Linked DNA regions of Homo sapiens. The protein of the gene in region 1 purifies or fractionates together with the protein of each later gene. This does not show direct contact. Each region holds a gene or a part of one and is shown in the gene's direction. Other genes may lie near its edges.

The links. Proteins that work in one complex are often made in the same cells at the same time.
Region 2: the proteins of B3GALT2 (region 1) and LTN1 purify together in Homo sapiens (affinity purification with mass spectrometry; 3 studies listed by BioGRID and IntAct, with this or other methods). This does not show direct contact.

The regions. Positions count from the first base shown.
Region 1 is NC_000001.11:193,183,046-193,191,719, reverse strand, and holds the start of B3GALT2 (beta-1,3-galactosyltransferase 2), read left to right. Parts: upstream 1-5,106; 5' UTR 5,107-5,701; intron 5,702-8,674. UniProt on the Homo sapiens protein: Beta-1,3-galactosyltransferase that transfers galactose from UDP-galactose to substrates with a terminal beta-N-acetylglucosamine (beta-GlcNAc) residue. Can also utilize substrates with a terminal galactose residue, albeit with lower efficiency.
Region 2 is NC_000021.9:28,989,503-28,997,422, reverse strand, and holds the start of LTN1 (E3 ubiquitin-protein ligase listerin), read left to right. Parts: upstream 1-4,545; 5' UTR 4,546-4,617; coding exon 4,618-4,659; intron 4,660-7,920.

The DNA.
Region 1 (8,674 bases):
ACAAATAAAATTTTTAAAGACATTAATGATAGAGGCCAGGTGTGGTGGCTCAGGCCTATAATCCCCCGCACTTTGGGAGGACGAGGTGGGCAGATCACTTGAGGTTAGGAGTTTGAGACCAGCCTGCAACATGACGAAACCGCGACTCTACTAAAAATACAAAAATTAGCCAAGTGTGGTGGCACACGCCTGTAATCCCAGCTACTCGGGTGGCTGACGAAGGAGAATCACTTGAAACTGGGAGGTGGAAGTTGCAGTGAGCCAAGATCACGCCACTGCACTCCAGCCTGGGCAACAGAGCGAGACTGTCTCAAAAAACAAACAAAAAGAGAGATTTATGATAAAAATATGCATTTCAGTATGTAAGTCTCAGACATGATTATACCAGAAGATATACTAACCAGATGCTAATACCTATACATAAAGTCATAGTGAATGTAACAATTACAAATGCCCATAGACTGGTATATTGGTGACTCAAATGCCATGAACACAATTTCATTTTTTGATATGGTGAACCATTGGCCAAGTTTAGAACAAAGCAAAGTACAAGCTTCCCTCACTGTACACTGTAGTTACATTTCTAGATAATTCAGTGCACGTTAAAACTGAACAAAATATACTTTATGTTCCAACAATGTTTTAAATTTACTTAATTATAAAAAAGTGTTTCACCTACACAGATAGCCAATGAAACACTCAGAAGTCCTGCAGAACACAGAGCTAGTCTTTGCTGTTTACAAAGACTGTCCCACACACTACTGGACTACTACCTACCCTGGCCCTAAAATGCCCTTAAAAATCATTCTGTTAACTAGAAACATCCTCACAAACTTCTAGAACACCTCGTAGAAATCAGTACTACCCCTACCACTGCCCCCTTGAGAACCACAGCTCTAAGAGTATTATTCCTGACTGAAACAGCTGTGCCTCAGAAAAACCAAGGAATACACAAGCATAATAAAGTATTTGCCAAATCACTGCTGATTGTAAATGCTCATTGTTAATAGTTTGCATGAATTAAAACAGATAAAGGTGTCTATAATTAGTTCTGAAAGAGACACTTAAATTTAGCTTTGTTTTCAAGTCAAAAGAAATTCTTAAACAACATGCCTATCTGCTGCACAAGAAAACTGAAGGAGAAAAATAAGGCAGGCAAACACTGACACTTGTGGTCATTCTGAGATTGCTTATTTGCAATCAGGCTAATTCTTGCTTTGTGAGTTCAAGGAAAGTAAAGCTGGTTCATAAATCATCCACTGACTTTAGAGGAAAATTACAAGCTTTTAATAAACATTTGACTTCTCTTCAAAAAGGGGAAACTACCTATACTAATATTAAATAACCAAAAACAAGCCATTTGTCCAAATCCCTTATGTAATGAAAAAGACTGCATCTGATTATAAATAAAAACAGTCAAGAGAAATAAACTCCAAGCAAACATCATGCAAAATTGTCTAGTCATCTCAATAAAACTAAAATTGGTCTCTAAATAATTGTGTCAAGTGACAGTTTTCAGAGTGGTATGGTGGAAATTATACCTGATCTAAAACATTAAGATTTTTGTCCAACATGGGAAAAAATAGCTGGTATTTCTGGTAAGTCCTAGCTGAAATTAATTCCTTGAATTCAGGGACCAACCACTCATAATAAAGCACAAACAGGAAAGGAGACCAATATAAGAAGACCAGATTCATGTCTCCCTTCTAATGTTACTCAAGGATTTTGCTCATTCCCATTAGATGAAAATCATCCACCCTGGTTGAAGTGCTCTCCCCCTACCTTTCTCTTTTAATCTTTTTACCAAGGACATATTGTTGAATGTACATACATAGATAAACAGATGATGTAACTCCATGAGTTACTATTTAGTAGCCACTTGAACAGCAGATTTACATCTGATTCAACATGTAATAATCATTCAAAACCATTAACTACATGAATACAAAAATAATTATTCCTATACCCAGTAAAAACTGACAATTAGGAGGCATTACAATTCCTGTCTTTAAATTCTGACTCCTTGAAGTCTATACTAGACATGCCCAGGAAAATGCTAAAACCGGCCTGGACAGCTCTGGCCATGATGCACATAGTAACGGCCACCTATTTTGCCATCACGGATGTGTTGTAGGATTAAAAATAGACTTATGCAAGTGACAATTACAAGCCATTTATAACTATAAAACTTAACAAAATAGCTGCCAGTTTGCTGAATCTGAAAAAGAAACCTGTCACATTTACTGAATTAGTTTAACCATAGAATTCAGATGTTAAAAGAAACTAGACTAAAGGAAGAACTTCTACAAGCTCTCCTGTCATAAGATTTTTACAGTTTCTCTTGACTGGAAACATGTAGGTTGCTACAAAAAGTTACTAAAGGAACTTTTATCTCACATCTGCCCTGTTTTCCTGAACTTTACGTAAAGTTCTTAACTAGCTTAACTTAAATTTAACAAACAGGTTGGCTGGGCACTGTGGCTCACGTCTGTAATCCTAGCACTTTGGGAGGCCAAGGCAGGTGGATCACCTGAGGTCAGGAGTTTGAGACTGGCCTGGGCAACATAGTAAAACCTCACTTCTAGTAAAAATACAACAATTAGCCGGGTGTGGTGGCACACGCCTGTAATCCCAGGTACTCGGCAGGCTGAAGCACGAGAATCTCTTGAACCTGGGAAGCAGAGGTTGCAGTGAGACAAGATCGTGCCACTGTACCCCAGCCTGGGCAATAGAGCAAAACTCTGTCTCCAAAAAAAAAAAAAAACAGACAGACAGAAAGAAAGAGGTTGCAGCTGTACTTTTAAAGTATGAAGTAAATTCCAGTTAAGTACATAGGCACCTTTTGTTAGTAATATTTGGAAGTTTCTTGCTGTTTAAATACTTGTCCCATAACAAGCAGTTCGGGGCGGGGGGGTCCCACTGGAAATTCAGGGACTCAATCCGATACTGGAGGGACCCACTAATGAATACGTTACCCATATAACTCTCTTAATAATCAAAATCTATAATAATCCAGGGAGACATTAAAAAAATCCAATCAAAAGAACTGGCAAAAGAATAATAATTATTTAGTCCTTTCCTGGAGAAAGGGGTAGGGAATGTCTCTAAATCAACTTTGTATCCCCTATACTTAATAAGCTATGCCTAAATGCACATGTTGGTACACAGTAGTTAATCAATATGTACCTGTTGAAAAAGTGAAAATATAAACATTCATTTATTATTCTATTAATGATTCCTGGGTATGCTGCGCCAGTGTTCAGAAAAAAAAAAAATCCCACAATTTCTCTAGCAGTGCCATGTAATAAAAAGTTTAAGAACAGAGAATAATGATAGTACTAGATAGATTTAAAAAGAAAACAAAAACACAGAGGATAAGAATTTAGATAATCTTGCTTCAATTCCCAGCTTGGCCTCTATTCTTATCAGTATTTATCTGACATTTGGACTATTTTACAACTCCAGGCACTGGTTCTGCATCTTTTAAGTGGGTATTACAATAATAAAATTATTAGAAAAGAGCCATTTGCATAACAGCTCAAGTAAGCTTAGCACGCAATCTGATTTTCAGTAAATACTCCATAAATGGTCATTGTGGCTAGCTTCATAGTCAAATCCTATGTAAAGAATCACTGATAAATAAATACTGATCTACAAAAACACATCTGTACTTCTGGAAAATAAGTTATTTTAAGTAAGTTCTTAAGCATTACTCTGTTAACTAGTAAACTAATTTTAAAAACAAAACGGTAGTGAGTGAGAATTGCAGTATGGGTGGATATAGACTACAAGGAAGTTGGGTTTTAGTCCTCTCCTTCAAACTTAACTAGGAAAAGTCAAAGCTCAGTCTAGGCTTTAGGTTTCCTATTTATAAAATTCTTTTTTTTCTTTAACGATCCTTCTAACATTTCTAATACAGTGGGGTTCTTAAAACTACAAAGCACATTTCATCAGCAAAGCTCAAAAATATGTGGACAAAATTTTTTTTAATATCAGAGAAAACAAATTCATATTCATTTGAAATAGCATATATTAATGGTGGAGGCAGTGAGATGAAGAATATGTATATAACTGTTAACCTTTAGCTTAAGCTCCAAAACTATAACTTTCTAGGACTGAATTACTGTCCCTAGAGTCACAGAGGAAAAACTGATAATAAAGGCTTTTTACTACAACAAAAAATTTAAAAAAACCTTCCCTACTGCTCTGCAGTAAGAAAAGAAGGTGCCAGCCCCAGAAACTAACCATATTAGAAAAATCTCAGTGAGTGTGTAGTGTTAATAAAATCTGCCTCATGGCAAGTTATTAAATCTTTCTGAAACATTAGAATAAGTAAACATAATTAGTAAAATCTCATTACCCCCAGATCCTGTACAAGTGTGCTATATCTATTACATCATTTTACTGAATTCTACGATACATGTAATTTTAAAGGGAAGGAAAAATAAATAAAAAATAAATGACAACATTAAAAAGTGATTTAAAATAAAGTTTTCTGCCATCAAGAACACCAAAAACCACATAAGAGCAAAAAAGAAGTGGGCTGTATCACATCATGCATTAGTAAAGTAATCCAAGACAGCTTATTTATACAAACCCCAGAAAACGGGGGGGGGGATCTAAATTACAAAGATACATGGTTTCAATAGAAACCATAGGTCTTAACTACATATTAGTAAAAAATCAAGAGCAATTTGAAAGCAGAGAAAAAAAACTTCAAGAAGAGAATGCACTGAAGGGGTTAAATTACACCAACTTACACACAAAAGCTTATACTGCTTACACCCTACAAAAGCATGTAAGAAACATGAAAACCAACATCTAACACAGAAAACACTTAGAAAGCCTGTACTTAAGAATAAAGTTAAAAAAGGAAGTAAGCTGGAAAAAATAAAATCATAACCATTTCATAATCATCACATTTTCAAATTATTCACTCATCACTACACTTGCATTCAACATATATAATTTATCACATAAAAGCAAAATCTCTAAGCTTCTCCCTACCTTAGGTTTTTAGTCAAAATGAATGCAAACAATCACGTGGGATTCAGCCAAGCAGTGACGTTAAATTCTGCTCTGTCAGAGAGAGCATCTGTCAAGCCCACATTTAAACTGCTGCCTGCCTGTGCAGCAGCTGAGGAACCGTGGATTTCATATTATAGACTAAAACCCCATTAAAACTGCTCAAAATCCTTCCTGCAGCTGCCAGGCAACAACGAAAGAAGAGAGGTAAATCCTATTCTTTTCCAATACAACTGAAGCACTACATTTTAGCTCTGGCTGCTTTACATTGCAGCTCAGTGTTATTAGTAGAAATATGGATACTGAGACGAGAACACAGCACTGCATTGTCCAGCCAGGAAAATAGCAGATGTAAAAAGCTTCAATGCATCAACTGTCGGGAAGAGTCAACAGTGCTACAAGCAGAACGGGCAACTACAGCTCTTTTGTTTAACGAAAGAGAGAAAATGAAAGAAAGGGAAAATTTCAGAAGACTAGGACCCATATGAACAAGGAGGGTAACTCGAAGACAAGCAGACAGATGGACACTTTGGATACTGTGAAAAGCAATCGCAGGAGGCAGACTGTTGGGGGATGTGCGCATGTTCGATAGCATCTTTTTTGCTGAAGTGATGGCGTGCCAAAAGTATTTTCAGTGGGCATAATCCTCTTCACATAAATGGCCTGACCAAGGAAGGTATGTCAATATCTTGTGTATGATAGTCATTTAAATGTGTTACCTTTTTATAGCCCTGGAGGCACTAATACCTGATAAGCAAGTTCATACAGCTCACTGCCCTTGAAACTATGAAAAGGTTTCTTAATATCTGATTTTAAAATTTGTCATTGTTTAGAAGACAAGCTGTCACTGCTTTATGCAGCTAAATATGTAGCTTGGAGTAATTCTGGGTAATAGACATCAGAGGGAAAAGGCAAATAAGAAGAAGATGTGTTTAAAGGATTCCTTAAGAAATTAAACTTAAAAAAAAATCTGTAGCCCTTTACAAAAAACACAGCAATATTCTATCAAATTAGGTCAAACTGAATCCTTATCTAGTAAATTAAATGCTCTCTTAAAAATGGCTATCAAAAGACACAATGCAGTGAAATTTCATTAAATAGTAGCAAGGAAAACCTTAAGAGTTTTTTTTTCAAAGTCCTTTTAAAACAAAACCTTAATATGTAACAGCTTTTAGTAACAAAATCTTCCCCAACATCTCCCTAAATGAAGATAATGAACACAACCAAAGAGAGTATCAACAAATTTTAAATATTACCAAGCTACAAGAAGATACTAAAAGGAAAGCATTAACATAAGATCACATAAGGTAGTGTGAGTTTATGCATAACCCCACAATAGAGCCTCGTGTTATTATAGTGACCATGAATAGAACTTTAAACAAAGGGACATCAATAGTGGCTTTAAAAATTAACTATTTTAAATAGCTTACATTTTATGTAAAAGACTGATTCCAAATGATCAAATTTAACGTTGTCTCTGATTATCATTTCAGAAGTGAAATTCAAAAACATAATATGGAAATACTTTGATACAAAAATATCCACAAATGGCAATACAAGGTCAAAAAATTAAATATAAATGTAGCTACTATGCTTCCAGGCTATATTAATATGCAGTAATGAACTACCGCCACTATATGTGTGTGCAGGGCACAGATAAACCAAATAAACTATTTTAGCAACAATCATAGAACAGCAACTCAGGGCTCAAGAACTTAAAGATATTTCTAAAATTCTACAAATCTATCAAAGATCCTGATTTTTCCTCAATTTCACAACACAACTCAGTAATTATCTAATAATCACAAAAGGCAAACATTTTTTAAAAATATGTAAGTACTGCATTCCAAAATGAAGATTAAACAAGTTTACCAGACTCTATTACACCTCAACATCACTCTCACCCATGAATTTTTATTCTAATAAAGACTAATAATAAATAGTACTAAAAAATATGGTTGTAAAAATTTCAAGTCCCTCTTGGTACCTTAATCTCTCAATATTGAAGTCACCAATTAAGCAGTTTTATAAGCTATACATCTCAAAACAAAAGTGTAAGTTTTTCTATTAAACCATCACCAACAGACTAAAGAGATCAACACTTTTAAAAGCCAAATGATAAAAACTGAGTGTGTACTGAACAGCATTTTACAGTAACATTCTCCCCATGAACTTCATCCACAAGCTATAAATACACATTAATAATGTGAAGATATCAAAAAAGAAGAGATAAACCAAAGCTATTTCTCTTCTAAAAATGTAAAAGTGCAGAACTATTTTGCATACTACTGAACTTTCTTGTTTTGCTCTCTCTTTTTAAGAATTAAAATACAACAGGCAATAACTGGAGAATAATTTTATCATTTAATAAAAAGCAGGCATGGTTATTTTAATTTTATATTCTTTTTAACAAAAAAATTTATAAGACCTGAGAATCTTTTAATAAGGAATTTTTTAAAGGCTAGACACATGCACTTCATTTATCAATGGGAGATTTATAGTTATATATGGATTTAATATCTCAACAGCTTAACATCTAAAACATACAAATACCATGAAGTCTAAATTAAGATGCATCTCTATCACATACTGTTACAAAATCATATTAGGACCAAAACTATGTATTTATGCTACATTACAATATGCAATAATTTGCTGTTTTCTGTAATACTAAAATACTTTAGAGACATCTTCAGGTATATTGTTCTTATAAAAGCAACATAAATTATGATTATTTTCCATCATTTATTTACTCAGTCCTTTAACTCAAACATCCATTCAAACATCTGACCTTATTGTTTACTCCTTCTTACACCATCAAATTTACACTTTAAAAAAAATCTGTATAATTGGACTTCAACCAGATTCCAAGTATTATCATATCAGCAGAAAACAGATAACTTATCTTTGTAACACTTAGAACAGATTATCAAATAAATTTTAAAAGCAACTTTTGTTTCTTTTGAATTTACATACATAACCCTTATATCTACTGATATCCTTATGAAGTGGAGCGGAGAGTCATTATTATTTACCAAATATGTCATTTGGAAATAAAAGCTTAAAAATAGTTCCCTGGTCTAAAAAGAATGGCCAGCTATTTAAAAGTACAAGAAGGAAAACACTGAGTTTCTAAATCAGAATGCTCAGCTCTATTATTTTCAGCTTAGCTTACAGCAGAACTATGTTTTGTTGGTACAGTGAATAGCCTTGGTTTTCATTACACTAATGCTGAGTTTAAATTCATATAAACAAATTCTAACAAATAGCATACTAGATGATTTGCTTTTAAAATTCCAAACTTAAAAAAATTGTTCACATCTTTCAAAATGCTTAATTTTTTTACATTTTAGAAATATTATAACTTCTAAAAGTACTCTGTAATCTCAGAAACTAGAAATTTCAAACGCTGGTGCCTATATGGTTGGACCTTAGATATTTGTTCAAATTCCCACCTACTTGCTCCTCCTAGTGGCTGCTACTATAATAGCACTTTCATTCATTTACATCTAACACTTTCAATCAATATTTTCAAAGTACTTAACGTTATGTATGTGAATTTTACTTTATAACTATTCAATTACATGAGGATTTCCATGTAAATTCTATTTCCTAGAAGTAATTAAATTTATGCCAAGGTTAAACAAAT
Region 2 (7,920 bases), on another chromosome or scaffold:
GCAGTGGCACGATCTCGGCTCACTGCAAGGTCTGCCTCCTGGGTTCATGCCATTCTCCTGCCTCAGTCTCCCAAGTAGCTGGGACTACAGGCGCCCACTACCATGTCCAGCTAATTTTTTGTATTTTTAGTAGAGATGGGGTTTCACCATGTTAGCCAGGATGGTCTAGATCTCCTGACCTCATGATTCACCCGCCTCGGCCTCCCAAAGTGCTGGGATTACAGGTGTGAGCCACCTGGCCCAGCCGAAATATATTTTTAAGTGCTTGATGTCTGATTTTCCTCCTCAGAAACTTGTCTGGATGGGTAAGATTATTTTAACATCAGACTTCTGTAAGGCATGCCCAATATTTACTTAGGGAAAAAAGGCTATAATTCTGATGTGTAACTCTTAATCTGTGAAAACAAGAATTTATAATATTAATAATTATGAATGAAGAAGGGAGGGTTTCAAGTCTCTTTTTTTTTTTTTTTTTAACTCCCAACCTGGTTTCTGAAGAGTTTCTAATCTTGGCCTTAAAAGTATTGACATTTCTTTTTTCTTTTTTTCTTTTGAGACAGAGTCTTGCTCTGTTGCCCAGGCTGGAGTGCAGTGGTGTGACCTCAGCTCAGTGCAACCTCTGCATCGTGGGTTCAAGTGATTCTCCTGTCTCAGACTCCTGAGTATGTAGGATTACAGGCACGCACCACCACGCCTGGCTAATTTTTGTATTTTTGGTAGAGACAAGTTTTCACCATGTTGGCCAGGCTGGTCTCGAGCTCCTGACTTGAGGTAATCCTCCTGGCTTGGCCTCCCAAAGCATTGGGATTACAGGCGTGAGCCACTGCACCCAGCCGACATTTCTTGACATAAACATTAACATTTTGACAAAAATTAAACATTATTTTTAATGTTCTTCTGTCCAAACCTTTTCTGCCTATCACCTACTGTATTGATAGAAACAATTATTTTCTGATTTCTAAAACCTTGTATGAATCAATTAAAACAAATTTGCGGGTATCTACTTTGGCAGGCACTGTTTAAGAGTACCATGGAGATAGCCTCACCTTCAAAGGATTTACAGACTTGCTGGAAAATCTAAACATGAGAAACTGTTAAATCAATGAGACTATTTTCAAGTTCCCAAAGCAGTAATATCCTACTGACTTCTGGGTAAAAAAATAAACCAGTTATAAGTTGATGTCCTAGGAAAATCGAAGAGAGATCTGTGTGGCCTGGAGTAGTTGAGGAACATGGCAAGAGGCATGGATCCCTGTTGCAAAAGGTGGAAAGTCTCGTCAGAATACAAGGAAATGAAATGAAGAGATATTTCCAGCAAGAACAGACAAAATTTAGGAAACAATTAGTAAATAGGAGCACAGAAAATCATTCCAGTCTTGTCCTTCAAGTTTTTTTTTTTTTTTTCCCCCTGGGTAAGTCTGCACTGAAGTTAGGCTAGATTCTTGACTGTCCTTTCCGAAATCCATGCTAATCCAACTCACTGTCTCTGTCCCTCTCTCGTCCCCATTTTGAATGTTCTCCCTTTTATTTTACTTTTCCTAATGTTTTCCAAGCTTTGGGCTTTGGCTTGGAAAGCCTATCTGACTACTCAAGCACATGTTAATCTTCCCCTTCTGTAGCATTTTTGATATGTGACACCCACATTTTCAGTGAATGGCATGATATCTAGTAGTGTTTCCAATGTGTTAAACTGTTTGCAGCTATATTGTATAACTCTCAAGAATGAGGACACTACAATTTGTATAACCAATGTACCATGATATATGTAACCAATGATTTATTTTAAACAAACAATATTTGTTGAGTTGATTTTTTTTTTTTTTTTTTGAGACGGAGTCTTGTTCTGTTGCCCAGGCTGGGGTGCAGTGGCGCGATCTTGGCTCACTGCAACCTCTGCCTCCTGGGTTCAAGCAATTCTCCTGCCTCAGCCTCCCACATAGCTGGGGTTACAGGTGCGTGCCACCGTGCCTAGCTAGTTTTTGTATTTTTGGTAGAGACGAGGTTTCACCATCGTGGCCAGGCTGGTCTTGAATTCCTGATCTCAGGTGATCCACCCACCTTGGCTTCCCAAAGTGCTGGGATTATAGGCATCGGTCACTGCACCCAGCCTGAGTTGATTTTTAATTACATAATTAATACATGAAGATGTTGTCCTTGTATAAAATAAAATCTTACAGATAAGGCTTAATTTCCTTTGACTATAACTCTTAACCCTAATGTCTTTTCTTGCCACTTTTTCCCACAAAAAGTCACTACAATGATCAGACTGGTATGTATTCTTGCAGATCTTTATTTTATTATTATTTTTTTTTGAGACGGAGTCTCACTTTGTCACCCAGGCTGAAGTGCAGAGGCGCGATCTTGGCTCACTGCAACCTCCACCTCCTGGGTTCAAGCAATTCTCCTGCCTCAGCCTCCCTAGTAGCTGGGATTACGGCTGCCTGCCACCATGCCCAGCTAATTTTTGTATTTTAGTAGCAACGGCGTTTCACCATGTTGGTCAGGCTTGTCTCAAACTCCTGACCTCAAGCAATCCACCCACCTCGGCCTCCCCAAGTGTTGGGATTACAGGCGTGAGCCACCGCACCCGGCCTATTCTCTGTATTTATATTATATATATATGCATAAATATATATATATATATATTATTGTGTTGTGGGTTTTAAAAACACAAATGGTATCATACTGTATATATTGGTATTTGCTTTTTATTTAAGAATGTGTCTTAGAATTCTTCCTATGTGTGTTCAGATAAACCTTATTCTTCTTAAATGTTGCCTAATAGCTTATTGAATACATATAATTTATTTAGCAGTTCTCCAATATATAGACATAGGTTGCTTACAATTATCTTTCTATTATAAAGTTTTTGTGAACCTCCTGTAATATGTCTCTTTGTGTGACTTTTTTCTGAGACAGTCTGCTCTGTCACCCAGGCTGGAGTGCAGTGGCATGATCTTGGCTTACTGCAACCTTCGCCTCCCGGGTTCAAGAGATTCTCGTGCCTCAGCCTTCCAAGTAGCTGGGATTGCAGGCACCTGCCACCACTGCCCAGCTAATTTTCGTATTTTTAGTAGCGATGGGTTTTTGCCATGTTGGCCAGGCTGGTCTCGAACTCCTGACTTCAGGTGATCCACCTGCCTCGGCCTCCCACAGTGGTGGGATTACAGGCATAAGCCACTGCACCTGGCTTTTGTGTGCATTTTAAAATCAGGGTCCAGTCAGGAAAACAGAAATCACATTAGTTATTGAGAAATATTTTAATATGGGAAATTGGTCAAAAGGAATTATAAAAGGTAACAGGTAATCACTGCAGGTAGCAGCTACCATTCCTAGAGCTAGGAAAGGATGGAACAAAAGAAGTGGTTGGAGTCATCAGAACCTAAAAGCTTGAAGGAGGGCCCTGAACACCTTAGTTCAGGCCTATGAAGAATGAAGAGAGGGTGATGGCTGGCTGTTACTGGATCTCTGGAGCACAAAGAAGGGATCCCACGGTGTTGAGGCTCAAACTTCTGAGGAGGTGGCTCAAACATTGGCTATCTCAGGAGCTCAGGGGAGGGGCCGCATGAAAGTAGAATTCAGATCTCTGAGGAGAGCACTGACTGCTGCTGTGATCTCTGAGGGGTGCAATAAGGCTGATTCTGTGATTGTTGGAAAAAGGATAGAGATTAAAACCACCTTTTGGCTAAAGCAATTGCTCCTGCCACGGTAAAATGCAGCTGCTGCTGGCATGATGCTTACAGAATGGAGCAAGTCCCTTCTTCCTCTTGCCTTTGTTTCCCTCTTGTTCGTCCTGTTGGTGGAATCTAGCAGAAGCCCCCCCAGTAACATGGAGTTGAGTATAAAAGGGTGACTGCGTGGACAAGAAACAATAACCAGCACACATTTACTTGTTTCTCTGGTGTGATTCTGAGTCGCACAATCAATGGGTTACAGGATTTGTACATTTCAAATTTTAATAGGGACTCCCACATTATCCTCTTTCCTAAACTGCACGTTAACAGTTTCAATATGAATAAAAGGGGACGGGGAGGGGAGATTTAGAGAGAATAGTGCCTACAGCAGTAATCAAATTTTAACAAGACTTGGGAATACTGTCAAAATGCAGGATCTGATTCAGGAGTTCTGAGGGGCCCGAGTTGGCCTTTTCTAAAAAACGCCCAGGTGATACTGATGATTGCATCATGTTGGAAGTCTAAAACACTCCCATCTTCCCACAGCCTCTACCATAACATTCTAATGCTACCCTTATGTGAAACTGCCCCTCTGATGATTCACGCCAGTTTCCTACCCTCTAAGCAAGGAACAAACCTAGCTTCTGAAAGCGGGGAGGACAGGATTTGGCGCCACGGGTCCAATGCTTGGCTTCCTATTGGCCAGGAATGACATCACTCAGACAGGCGTGGCTTTAGCTGTGACGTCTCCGGTGGCGGATGGTCAGGGACACAGCGGGAGGCGGGAGCGGAAGTGGGGCAGCAAATGGACAGGGTGGGTGGCGGAAAAGGGCCCGGGGGAAGTTATTACAGGGTGTCCTCTTCCGCCGCCAGAAGCCGGAAGTTGTGTCCCGGACGTGTCAACCGGGGTCTGAGTGCTCAGAGTACAGCTGCAACCGCGACCATGGGCGGGAAGAACAAGCAGCGAACTAAAGGGAACCTGAGGGTGAGCGGGGGCTGGCTCGGCCGACCCGGGAGCCTCGCTTCGAGGCGGCTGGCTCCGCCCAGCGCGTTGCTGGAGGGTGTGTGGAGCGCGGCTGTAGGGAGGCGTGTGTTTCCCTGTCGAGTGTGACCTCTCTGTTGTGTGTGCGTCCCTGAGAGCGGTTTGTGTTATCTCTGAGCAGATTGGGGAATCGTGAGAGAAAAGATGTACCATGCCAGAGCTGTCCTCATCCGAGCACACACCCATAATATTCATGAAGAAATGATAATGTGTCAGGTTCACTGGAAGGTGATCTGGCCGAGGTAGCGGGTTGGTTGGGGGAGGGCGGCGCTGGGAAGAAGGAGAGTTGGGAGAATGTTAAAGTGAATCCACTGTGGAGGTTACCGCAGATTGTGCCTCTCCTTTGCTACCTACAGTGGCTTCTCCTAAGCTAAAGCTCTTAGGATGGTATATTTGGTTTCTGGACTGCCTGTTACCCCTTTCCATCTGCAGTCCCATCTTCAGCTCCCTCCTCTTGGCTTACTTCATCCAGCCACACTGATCTCTTCACTGTGCCTTGACTACCTGGCCGGCTCCCAACGCTCTTCAGTTAGGTGGCTCCAAACTTTGCTCTCGACACCTCAGTGAGGTCTCCCATGATCACCCTCTTGGTAGCCCTTCCCCACTCCCATGTTCTTCCTACTTTATTTTACTCCATTGTATTTATGACATTTATTGTCTTGGTTCACTAGGACGTAAGTATTTTGAAAGCAAATGTTTTTATCCTCGGAACCTAGAACAGACTGGCACCTAATAGACGCTCACTAAGTACTTGCTTAAGGACGACCTTAAAGTGGATTCGTGTAAAACTACACGATGAGGGGTTTTGTAATGGTATTTTTTTATGGTGTTAGATTTATTATAGCACAGTCCAATTTTATGAGAATGCTTTTTTTTCCTGTTTCTGATGTAGTTAATTCTAGTGATTTCAATGTCACATTTTCTTAGATCTGTCACTTAATCTGTTTTGGAAGATAATAACAGTATTAACAATTATAGCAACCTGTTGTGTTACTGTGCTAAGCACTTTACTTGCATCTTTTAATGTTTTTTATTTAACAGATTTTCTCAAATGTTTTATATTTGAAAAGTTCTTATGAGGAAAAGTTGCAAGAATATTAGAACGACATCCCATATACTCTTTACCTACATTTACCAATTGCTAATACTTGGTTGCATTTGCTTTCTCTCTCTTAATTTATGTATTTTTCTGAACTTATAAGAGTTAGTTGCAGAAGTCGGGACTCTTAACTCCTAAATACATCAGCATGTATCTTCTAAAAACAATGCCATTTTCTAGCCTGCAGCAATTATAATAATGGTTATAGTATGCAGAAACTTTGACTTTTGTATAATACTGTAATCCAGGATACAGCCTTGTATTTAGACTTCTGTAGTTATCCCAATAATGTTCTCTTTTTTCTTTTTTTTTTTTTTGTAAGACAGGGTCGCTCTGTCTCCAAACCTGGAGTGTGGTGGTATGATCATGGCCCACTGCAGTGTCAACCTCTTGGGCTCAAGCGGTCAGTCCTCCCACCTCAGCCTCCTTAGTAGCTAGGACTCCTGGCTAATCTTTTTTTTTTTTTTTTCGGGGACAGAGTCTGGCTCTGTTACCCAGGCTGGAGTGCAGAGGCGTGAACTTGGCTCACTGCAATCTCCGCCTCTCGGGTTCAAGTGATCCTCCCAGCTTAGCCTTTCCAGTAGCTAGGACTACAGGTACAGGCCATCACGGCTAGCTTATTTTTGTAGGGACAGAGTTTTGCCATGTTGCCCAGGCTGGGACTTTTTTAAAAAGATAAACCGTTTTAACATCTGAGATTCAGTCAAGGATCACTCATTCCATTTAGTTACCATTTGGGTTTCTTTGATCTAGACAGTTTCTCAGTACTGTTTAAGCGGGGAGAGGAGTGTCTTTTTTAACAAAATTTGGAAGAGCCTGGGCCATTTGTTTGATTAATTCAGATTCATCTAGTTTTTTCCTTATGATTAGATTCAGGCTAAACAATTTTTAGAAGGAATTCTTCATAGATGATGAGTCTTTCTCAGTGCATCACACACCAGGGGCACTTCGCACCTGTTTGTCCCCTTATTGGTGGTATTTGTTTAATTACTTGGTTAAGGTGTTGTTCATTATAAAGTTATATTTTTCCATTGGCCAATAACAAATAATATGTTAGTTTGAAACTGTGAATGTCCTGCTCTTCCACAAACTTTCACCTAATGGTTTGAGCACCCTTTGATTCTTGCTGGAATCAGTTATTACTATGGTGATTTAAAAACTTATGCTTAATCATGAAAACAACCCAACTAATGAATTAATTACTCATATCTCATTTTAAATGTGGTGAAACTGAGGTTTAGAGAAATTAGCTTGCCTAAGCTCATGTAGCCAGGAAGTTGTGGAGTTGGGATTTTAACTTTAATGTGGCAAAGTCTTCAATAGAAGACTCTGATACTGGATGTCAGGTATTCAGAGATAATAGATGTCTGCTGTTCTTGAACTATTAGTTTGATGATACAGACACATATGTAAGCAAATGTTAAAGAATTATGATGCAGGTATTAGAAGAAAGAATGTGGGAGAATGGAAGAGAATGGAGGAAGGCAAGTGTTGCAAACATGAGTTTGAAAGATGAGTAGGAGTTTGTCAGACAGTGAAAAGAAAGGAAGCGTTTTCAGGTAGAGAAAAAAGGTTATATAAAGATCAAATTGTGAAAGGCCATCACATAGATAACTTTTTTTTTTTTTTTGAGACAGAGTCTCGGGTCACTGCAACCTCCACCTCCCAGGTTCAAGCAGTTTTGTTGCCTCAGCCTCTCGAGTAGCTGGGATTACAGGCATGCACCATCACACCCGGCTAATTTTTTGTATTTTTAATAGATACAGGGTTTTGCCATGTTGGCTAGGCTGGTCTCAAACTCTTGGCCTGAAGTGATCTGCCCAAAGATACGCTCAGCCTCCTAAAGTGCTGGGATTACAGGTGTGAGCCACCATGCCCTGCCTCAGAGAACTTCGAATTCAGTTTGCTACTAGGGCATGAATGATGGCAGCATAATTTGAAGAAGGGAGAAGGAAGTGGGGCAAGGGAAGGAAAGAGTGGCAGGAGATAAGACTGGGAAAAGTTGAGGTTAGATGGTGAAAGGTCTTGTAAGTCTTCCTTGGTTTGGTCTTTGTAGACTCAGGATTGCCACCACAAATAACTCTAGAAGCTAGGCATGAAAGAGT